Linked DNA regions of Homo sapiens: region 1 is linked to region 2. A link means that fine-mapping ties the variant in region 2 to the expression of a gene that starts in the linked region. Tissue or cell type: whole blood. Region 2 holds a variant in brackets; the other region holds the start of a gene. All regions are shown on one strand. Distances are between the middles of the regions.

What was found. PIP is the estimated chance that this variant, and not a neighbour inherited with it, causes the effect.
Region 1: it holds the start of HADH, and the variant in region 2 is fine-mapped to the expression of HADH in whole blood (INTERVAL, PIP 0.98).

The regions. Positions count from the first base shown.
Region 1 is chr4:107,987,458-107,992,846 of GRCh38, forward strand. HADH (hydroxyacyl-CoA dehydrogenase) reads left to right here and starts at 2,432. Exons shown (of 8, transcript NM_005327.7): 1 at 2,432-2,607. The coding sequence starts at 2,476. RefSeq lists a silencer at 2,199-2,428.
Region 2 is chr4:107,964,772-107,970,160 of GRCh38, forward strand. All of the region lies in intron 1 of LOC107986298 (a long non-coding RNA gene), which reads right to left. Among named protein-coding and RNA genes, the nearest start is that of HADH, 22 kb to the right of the region's middle. The variant C/T (reference allele first, on the strand shown) is at 2,445.

The sequences.
Region 1 (5,389 bases), 23 kb after region 2:
AACTTAATTTAAAAGGTGGCAGATACTGCTGTTTCTCTAAACACTGCCACTGAATATATTAAGGAAACTTCTCAGGGGAAAGGAACACATGATACATTTATGGGAGCAGCTAATGGTTGGTTTGTAGGCATCCTGAGTAGTGAAAGGCAAGCTAGGCTATTCCAAACTTTTCTAATCTTTATGCTTCTTTAGTGGCTCTCCAGGTTATTATAACTTGTGTTACCAGGCTAATTACAAAAATGGATACCTCTTTAAATCAGGCCATAAGGCTGAATCAGGTCATTCAGTGAACTATGGTCCTTGTAAAAAGTAAAGTAGAGGTTCCTTTTCAAAGACTTTCCTCCTCATCTGATTAGGAATAAATAGTAACCTCTCTTAGAAGCAAAATTTATTCAAAGACCTGTTAACATTCTTAAATATCTGCTAGCTGTAATAAAGAAATCAATGTACTTTATGTTCTTAGCTCCCACAATTTAGCCTAAATATTTGCCCTGGCATGCTTATACTGGTCCAAGTGGGCATTAGGTCATAGCCTGTTCCTCTTCCTTATTTAGAGGTGTTTTTCCCTTCTCAGCATTCCACAAGTTACTTCCTCCTTCCTTTGTTCTCCTCTGCCTTTGCCTCTTTTAAGAATTTCTAAGTTGCTAGCCAATCAAGACAAATACAGAATGTGAAGTCCCGTTCTAGCCAATGGAAACCAGTCACAACAGTAAGGTGGACGGGTCAGGTTATAAATGACCCTGCCTCCTTTGTTCGGTGTACTCTTGTGGCAAAACTGCTGGCGAGTGTACTCTTTCCGCAGAAAGTAAAAATGGCCTTGCTAAAGAAATTAATTTTATGTTCAAGTGCTATTTCTTTACGGCACCAAGAAATAAGCATTTCTAGCAGTCCTTAACCGCCATAATGCCCTAAATTAGACCATGACCAATTGGACTCAAATACTTTGAACTATCTTTATTGCCTGAACTTTGAATTGTTTAATTTTGATCAGTTCAGTTTGTGGAGACTCCTGTTAAGGTGTGTACCTCAGTTTATTGCTATACTCCTTCTCGTGGCCATAATAGTCTCCCTGATGTGTTGTTGTCCCCTCGAGAGTCTTCAATGTCTCTATGCAGCCATCCTTTGTACACCAAATGGTGTTATTACAGTTAGAATAACAACATGAAGAAAGTATAATCACTCAACTAATTTGACATTGTGACTTCCATACTGAGACAAAACAAGGTTCTGGTCAATCTCGTAAAACTGAGAGGCTGACCCAAAGGAGGAAACTGTTATTAAATTAAATCTGGCCTAAAGTTGCCTCCCTACCTAGCAAAGCATAATCAAACCTAATATGTAAATAAACTGCAATGTAATTTGAGAGTACGTTCTTCTAACAAGTGGCCAAGTCTTGGCCAATCACCGCAGCGGAGCTTTTAGCCCATTACAGGCTGCAAAAAATATTGTCTATAAACGCGGCTTGCCCACTGTTAGGGGCTGGAGCTCTCTGAACCTTTACTGGCTCAGGATACTACATGATTCATGCTTTCTTTGCTCAGATAAACTCTGCTAAACTTGTTTGAAGTTTTTTTGTTAACAATATTTAAACATAAAGCAAATAAATTAATAAGAATCCTATATCACTAAGTTACAGTAATTAGAAAGTATTCACCTGAGTGAGAAGATTGGCCAAGCTGCTATCCAGTCTTCCATTATTTGACAAGACATTTCTTTCCTATGCTTTCTAATAGTATTCGTTATTCCAGAAAGGTTGCTCTATGACCTTAAACCGTCCACATGTTCACTGCACTGATAGACGTCCAACGTCAAGATGGGTAACTAAAGGTCAACTCTCTCTTTACCTTCCCTGAGCCTGATTTTTGCATTGTAACTCATGGTCACTAGACATTTGTTTTGGGTGTTCGCAGTCTACATTTATTTCCCTTTTAGGGGAAACAATCACTGTCCACGGGATTAAAATAATCCCGAGTTGATTATTTGGTGACATCAACCAACGGTGCACATTTTGGGTCCATTACCAACACAGCCAAGCAGCACATATTTCTTCAGAGCCTAGATATGCACATGTCATCAAAGGATAGCATTTTACAGAGTCAACACCACTCACTTCATAGAACAAGGGGCCAGTGGCTTTTCAGAAGAAGGGTCTGTTCTCGGCCCCACACCAGAACGCCAGCCGCCAGGTCCCGCTGCTCAGCAGGTCTCAAGCCCGCGCTCACTCGGGCTCCGGCTGCTGACAGCTGCGAGCCCGCGCGTGTATACCCGCTCAACGCTGGGACGTTACAGCCAGGGCCAATGGGCAGAGCGGGACTCGAGGCCCCGCCCCCGCCTTGTGGCGTCACGGGGACGCCGGGGGCGCGCGGGCTGCAGGGCCGCGTAGGTCCCCGCCCCCAGAGTCTGGCTTTCCGCGGCTGCCCGCCTCGCGCGTCTTCCCTGCCCGGGTCTCCTCGCTGTCGCCGCCGCTGCCACACCATGGCCTTCGTCACCAGGCAGTTCATGCGTTCCGTGTCCTCCTCGTCCACCGCCTCGGCCTCGGCCAAGAAGATAATCGTCAAGCACGTGACGGTCATCGGCGGCGGGCTGATGGGCGCCGGCATTGCCCAGGTGAGCGGCCCTCCCTGCAGCGTGCCCACGCGCTTGGCCGCCCACCCTGAGGTGGAAGCTCTGGCGCGACCGGCCGCGAGGGGCCTGCACCCGCCCGACACCAGGGAGTTTTCACCCCGCGCCTCCCGGGTGTAGTTGAAATATCTCGCGTCTGGGCCTGTGAGGGCCCAAGTCTCACTCCCCTCAAAATTCAGGGTTCTGGGCCGATCCTCAGCTTCCTCGTTTGGAAAATTCTGGCTGCCCCCAGGGCCCGCTGAAGGTTCCATGGAGAGTGGCGGTGAATGCATTTTGGAAGCGGGCCGTGCAAGAGAAGAAAGAATTGTATGTGCACAAGGTTCAGGCATAACGCGTTTGTTCCTGCTCGGCTCAAACGGGAGTTTGCTGCCAAAGACATGAACTGCGATCAGTTTTAATTCTATCAGTTATTTTTGATTTTTATTCTGTAATTGTGCAGTCTTTGTCAAAGTAGTTTTCTCTCCTAAACGGCCTCCCGGCTCTCCCCGGTCTTTCCTTCGCTTGCTAGGTTGTAAAGAATAGTAGTAGTCATGACTTTTGTAGCACTTTGTAAAGTCACCTAATGGAAGATTGCTGAGGTCCTGGTTTTGACCTTTGAAATAGTGCCGTCTGTGCAGAGTTCTGAGCTTGCGATTTTGGCGCTGCAGCGGAATAAGTCTCTCTCTTTTTTTTTTTTTTTTTTTTTTTGAGTCGGAGTCTCTTTGACCCAGGCTGGAGTGGAGTGCAATGGCGCGATCTCGGTTCACTGCAACCTCCGCCTCCCGGGTTCAAGCGATTCTCCTGCCTCAGCCTCCCGAGTAGCTGGGATTACAGGCGCCCCGCCCGGCTAATTTTATATTTTTAGTAGAGACAGGGTTTCACCTTGTGGGTCAGGCTGATCTCGAACTCCTGACCAAAGGTGATCCGCCCGCCTGGCCTCCCGAAGTGCTGGGATTACAGGCGTTAGCCACTGCACCCAGCCGGAACAAGTCTTTTATCCATTGTACATCTTCAGGGCTTTTCCATTGTTCTGCTGAGCTGTGGTTCAGGCTCAGTTGTGCGAGTGATTGATTACCTGGCTACTGTAATGCTTGTACTTTTTTTTTTTAAAAATTATTCCATTTCAGCTCACATTGGAGAACCATGGTTTTCGTATCCTAGCTGATTATATTCTTAGCATTTCAGTCCTTTGCAACTTGGTTTGTTGGGGAAGGCGGTTATAGTCATCTAATTTTTCTTGGGGACAGTACTACTGTGGCTACAGTCATGAGAGAGTTTACTTTTTCAATGTCTTGTTTCCAACCAAGTCCACGCTTTCATGCTTGCTTTTTAAAAACAAAAACAAAAAAACCTTTTACTATTAGGTATTATATATCTCAATTTTCTTCTCCTTGGCAAGTTTTTTACAACGTTTTTATTTGATTGCATTTTCTTCTAAAAGCTATATCCCTGTAATGTTTTATTTATATGACTTCTTACAGTCTCCCATTTCCTCTGAGACCATAATTTTGGACATACATTGCCCTTTTTATTGTGTGGATCCCCTGGCTGCTAGGTTATAGTATCCCCATAATCTATGTTGTATGTGGACTGGGAGGAGTAACTCCCTTTAACCTAAAAGTTCCACAGGTTATACTCAAGAGAAAGTTTAGTTTGAGTACGTTTGTATTCCCAGGCTCCACCCAAATCTCCCAAGGCTGTGAGAGTGAGATTTGTTGTGAGCAGGAATAGAACAATGTGTTTTTTAGAAACATTTTAACAACATCTTAGTAACAAAATATTAGGGCCTTAAGCAGCCTCCAGGAACATTATGGGAAATGGATCCAGAAACTTGTGGCTGGTGTCCTTGAAGACAGCAGTGGAAAAAGATTAGAAACTAAGTAGAAAGCGTCACTTCAACTTTTGTAGAAAATCAGAGTGCTTAGTTCTTTGAATGCTGCATCCATCATTGGCCAAAAATGGATGTTGTGTTGCATTAAAAGGCAGAGGGGCAATACCTAAAATTACAGGTATGGTGTTGGAGCTTTCACCTGACAAAGGAGTAAGGAGAAATGATTGACATTAATGGAGAACACAGGCTTGTGCTTGTCAATCAAACTCTTAAATAGGTGGACCAGGGAGTGCCTTTTGAAACTTAAGGGAAAAAAAAGCTATTTATGCCATAGGCTGGACACATAATGGAACTGTCATTCTGAAAGGTTATAAAGACCAGAAATCTATAAAGTGGACGACCATAAGAAACAGTTCCATCCTTATGTAACACAGTTTGGAAAAACCTCAGTTACTTTAGTTGACAGCTCCAATCCTCTAAAACATTTGTGAGCAATGCTTTGCAGTGGTTTAGCTTATCTGCTTTTGCACCCTACCCTGTAGCATGCAGTTCTAGGCAGTATTGCTTCATTCTTTATGCTCCTTGACCAACAGCTTTTGGCATAGGGTAAATCTGTTTTGCTTATTGAGTGCCAGAGACGAATTAGTTGATGTGTTTTGAGTACAGATGGGCTACAGTTCAATATAAGAAGTTGGATGGTCTGCATGCTAGCTCTGCCTCATGCAGTATTAACATGGGACTTTACCTCTGTGTCTCGGTTTTCTCATCTCTAAAGTAGACTAATGCTAGTACTGGCCTCGTAGGGAGAGAATTGAATAAATTCAATGAATTCATGCATATGTCAAGCAGTTACATATATCAAGCATATGTCAAGCACTTACACAGTGTCTGGCATGTAATAAGAGTTCACAGAAAGTTAGCTGCCTTTATAATAATTATCTTCGGCCCGGCATGGTG
Region 2 (5,389 bases):
GCTGGCGACATCACACTTCCTGATTTCAAAAGATATTTCAAAGCTACAGTAACCTAAGTGCGATGGTACTGACATAAAAACAGACATATAGATTAACGGAACAGAATAGAGAGCCCATAAATAAATCCATGCATTCACAGTCAATCTTCACTAGAGTGCCAAGAGCACACAATGGTGAAAGGATAGTCTCTTCAATAACTAATGTTGGGAAAACTGGATATTCACAGGCAAAAGAATGAAATTAGACCCTCATCTGACACCATAAACAAAAATAAACTCAAAATGGATTAAAAACTTAAACATAAGACTCAGAACCGTAAAACTACTAGAAGAAAGCATAGGGAAAAAGCTTTCTGACATTTGTCTTGGCAATAATATGTTTGAATAAGATAGCAAGAGTACAGGCAACAAAAGCAAAAATAGACAAGTAGAATCACATCAAATTAAAAAACTGCTGCCCAGCAAAGAAAAAAAAATCACAGAGTTAAATAACAACCTATGGAATGGGAGAAAATATTTGTAAACCATATATCTTACAAGGAGTTAATATCCAAAATATATAAGGAACTCACACGAGTCAATAGCAAAAGCAAATAATCCAATTATAAAATGGGCAAAGGACCTAAATAGGCATTTCTAGAAAGAAGATATACAAATGGCCAACAGGTATATGTAATGGTGCTCAACATCACTAATCATCAGGGAAATGCAGATGAAAACCCAATGAAACATCACCTCATAACTATCAGGATGGCTATTAATCAAAAAGACAAGAGATTAAAAGTGTTGACAAAGATGCAGGAAAAAGGGAACCCTTGTACAGTGTTCATGAGAATTTATATTGGGACAGCCTTTATCAAAAACAGTATACAGGGTCCTCAAAAAATAAAAAATAGAACGACCATATTATCTAGCAATCCCTCTTTTGGGATATACCCACAGAAATGGAAATCAAGATTAAGATCTTGAAGATTTATCTGCACTCCCATGTTCACTGCAGCATTATTCACAACAGCTAAGATATGAAAAGAGTGTAAGTATCCACTGATGGATGAATGGATAAAAGAAAATGTGGTGTACACACACACACACACACACACACACACACACACAATGGAATATTATTCAGCCTCAGGAAAGAATGAAATTTTGCCATTTGCAACAACATGGATGAACCTGGAGGATATTATGCTAAATGAAATAAGGCAGACACAGAAAAACAAATACTGCTTGATCCCATTGATGTGTGAAACCTAAAATAGTCGCACTCATAGAATTATAAAGCGAATGGTGGTTGCCAGGGGCAGTAGGGAGGGAGAAACGGTAATGCTGGTCAAAGGATAAAAAGTTTCAATATGCAGGATGAATACGTTCTACAGATCTAATGTACAGCCTGGTGGCTATGATTAACAATATTCCTTACTTGAAATTTTCTAAGAAGTAGATCTTAAATGTTTTTGCCACAAAAAAAGATAATAATAAAAGAAGAAAAAGAAAATGGTAACTTGGTGAGGTGATAGATATGTTAATTGGTTTGATTGTGAAGACCATTTCACAATGTATACATACATCAAAACATCAAGTTGTATACCTTAAATATGTACAATTTTTATCCATCAATGTTCTTCAATAAGGCTGTTTAAAGAAAAAAAGAAAAAATCCAACTCTTAAAAAAATAATAGAATCAATCAGAAAACTAAAACAGCATACACTTAATGACATAAAAATAGAAAACTCTTGTATTCCAAAAAACGGCTGGCAAATCATGAAAAAATGTTTGTATCAGCCTTGCCAAAAATTCAATATCCTTAATATATAAAGTGCTTATAAGTCAGTGCTTATAAATCCATATATACTATAATATATAGTATCTTTAATATTTTCATATACTATAGCATAGTATTTCTTCTAGTGAACTGTAAGTGCTATAATTCAGTAGTAGAATACCCTAATTTTAAAAACAGGCAAAAGATACAAATTATTGTGTTAAACTTTTAAGTTCAGGGGTACATGTGCAGGTTTGTTACATAGGATAACTGTGTCATGGTGATACAGGAGTTAAGAAGAAATCACTTAGGCAGATAGTGAGGGTACAGAAGTCCTCGGTAAGGCTTTTCTCTTTAATGAAAAGCAGCCCCAAATCATTGTCTAACAAAGAGCAGCCTGTAAAGTCAAGCGGCAGACATAGACGAGGAAGCTGGGAGCTTGCATGGGTGAATGCTGGCAGGAACTAGGGGCTAGACATGTTTAAGATGGCAGCTTCATCTTCCCTTCTCTGCCAGCCATGTGTACAGTAAGAAGCAGACAAGATGGCTCAGATCAACTGGAAAGCCCATTTGCATAATAAGATTAGGGTGAGACAACCGGCCTTTCCCCATCTGCTATGTAAATGTCATACCTGATCGAACCTATCTGTGAACCCTTTGTAAATCAGACACTGCCTC[C/T]TCAAACCTGACTATAAAATTCAATGCCACCTGCAGGTCTTTTCCATTCAGGGACCCCACTCTCTCTATAGAGAAAGCTGTTTCTCTTTCTCTTCTCTTCTGCCTATTAAACCTCCACTCCTAAACTCCTCTTGTTTGTCCATGTCTTAACATTTTCCTGGTGCACGACCATGAACCCCAGGGTATATACCCCAGACAACATAGTCACTTCTATGGGGGTTTATTGTACAGATTATTTCATCACCCAGGTATTAAACCTAGTACCCATTAGTGATTTTTCCTGATCCTCTCCCTCCTCCCACCCTCCACCTTGAGATAGGCCCCAGTGTGTGTTGTTCCCCTCTATGTGTCCATGTGTTCTTATCATTTAGCTCCCACTTATAAGTGAGAGCATGAGGTATTTGGTTTTCTGTTCCTGCATTAGTTTGCTAAGGATAATGGCCTCCAGCTCCATCCACATCCCTGTGAAGGATATGATCTCATTCTTTTTTATGGCTGCATAGTATTCCATGTTGTATATGTACCACATTTTCTTTACCCAGTCTATCATTGATGGGCATTTAGATTGACTCCATGTTTTTGCTATTGTGAATAGTGCTGCAATGAACATGTGTGCATGTGTCTTTATAATATAATGATTTATATTCCTTTGGGTATATATCCAGTAATAGATTGCTGGCTCAAAAAGTAGTTCTGTCTTTAGGTCTCTGAGGAATCACCACACTGTCTTCCACAATGGTTGAACTAATTTACACTCCCATCAACAATGTATAAGCATTCCTTTTTCTCCACAACCTCACTAGCATCTGTTATTTTTTTATTTTCTTAACAGCCAATCTTACTGGTGTGAAATGGTTTCTCACTGTGGTTTTGATTTGCATTTCTCTAATGATTAGCGATACTGAGCTTTTTTATATAATTGTTGGCCACATGTATGTCTTCTTTTGAGAAGTGTCTGTTCATATCCTTTGCCCACTTTTTAATGAGATTGTTTGTTTTTTCTTGTAAATTTGTTTAAGTTCCTTATAGACTTTTGATATCAGACCTTTGTTGAATGTAGTTTGCAAAATTTTTCTCCCATTCTGTGGGTTGTCTGTTTACTCTGTTGATAGTCTCTTTTGCTGTATAGAACCTCTTTAGTTTAATTAGATCCCATTTGTCAATTTTTGCTTTTGTTGCAATTGCTTTTGGTATGTTTATCATGAAATCTTTGCCAGTGCCTATGTCCTGAATGGTATTGCCTAGGTTATCTTCTAGAGTTTTTATAGTTTTGGGTTTTACATTTAAGTCTTTAATCCATCTTGAGTTAATTTTTGAGATATAATTTTTTTTTTGAGACAGTCTCTCTCTGTCACCCAGGCTGGAGTGCAGTGGCTCAAACTCGATTCACTGCAACCTCCACCTCCTAGGTTCAAGCAATTCTTGTGCCTCAGCCTCCCGAGTAACTGGGATTACAGGCACGTGCCACCACCCCCAGCTAATTTTTATATTTTTAGTAGAGACAAGGTTTCACCCTGTTGGCCAGACTGGTCTCGAACTCCTGGCCTCAAGTGATCCACCTGCCTCAGCCTCCAAAGTGCTGGGATTACAGGCATCAGCCACCATGCCTGGCCAAAAATTTTTAGGAATACAAATGGCCAATAATATAAAACATTTTTCAAATTCATTGAAATGGAACTATTACAGTGAGACACCATTTTTAACCATTGAATTTTAAAGATATTTTTGAAAAAGGAAAATACTAAGTATTGATAAGAGAGAAGCAGTCATACATTGCTGTTGGCAATACAGACTGGAACCACATATCTGGAGAAAATTTAAGAATATGTACCAAGATTCTAATTATTCCTAAATGCACAGTGGCATCCTAGATTGAATCCTGGAACAGAATACTGACTTTAGTGGAAAAACTGGTGAACTCAAATAACATCTGTAGTTTAGTTAATAGTATCATACCAATGTTAATTTCTTAGTTTTGACAAATGAACCATGGTTATGTAAGATGTCAAAATTAGTAGAGGTTGGGTGAAGGAAATATAAGAACTTTGGACCATTTTTGCAATTTTTCTGTAACTTAAAATCATCCCCAAATTTTAAAAATTAGGCATTTATGTCATTTAGCCCAATAAATTCTACTCTAAGATACTAACTATGGGAGATAATCAGATGAAAAATAGTTTGGGATACGTTATTCATTGCAGTGATATATTTGAGAGCAATGGAGAAGAGAAATGGAAAGAAAAGAAAAAAAGGGATAAAAAATCCACATGCTCAACACTATGGTCAATGGAATACCCACCCTCATCCATGCACAAAACAATTATGAGGCCTGTTCTAGATGTTGGGGCACAGCAGTGAACAAAAGAAAAATCTGTGATGTAAGAAGCTTAATTCCTGGCCAGGCATTGTGGCTCATGCCTGTAATCCCAGCACTTTGGGAGGCAGAGGTAGGTGGATCGCTTGATGTCAGGAGTTCGAGACCAGCTTGGCTAACATGGTGAAACCCTGTCTTTACTAAAAATACAAAAAATTAGCTGGGCGTGGTGTCAGGCACCTGCAATCCCAGCTACTCGAGAGGCAGAGGCAGGAGAATTGCTTGAACCCCAGGAGGTGGAGGTGACAGTGAGCAGAGATTGCACCACCACTCTCCAGCCTGGGTGACAGAGTGAGACTCCATCTCAAAAGAAAAAAAAAAGAAGAGGCTTAATTCCTGAAAGGGGAAAAAAAGTTGAATGGATAAGAGAAACAAAATGTGTAGCATGTTAGTGATAAGTGTTAAGAAATAAAACTAGCAAGGGGATACAAAATGTCAGGGAGAGGTTACAATTTTAGGTGGCGAGACCAGGGAAGGTGGCCTCACTGGGAGGGTGATTTTTAAGTGAACAGCCAAGGAATTGAGGTGTGAGCCCTGTAGATATCTAGGAAAGGAACACCCCAGGCAGAGG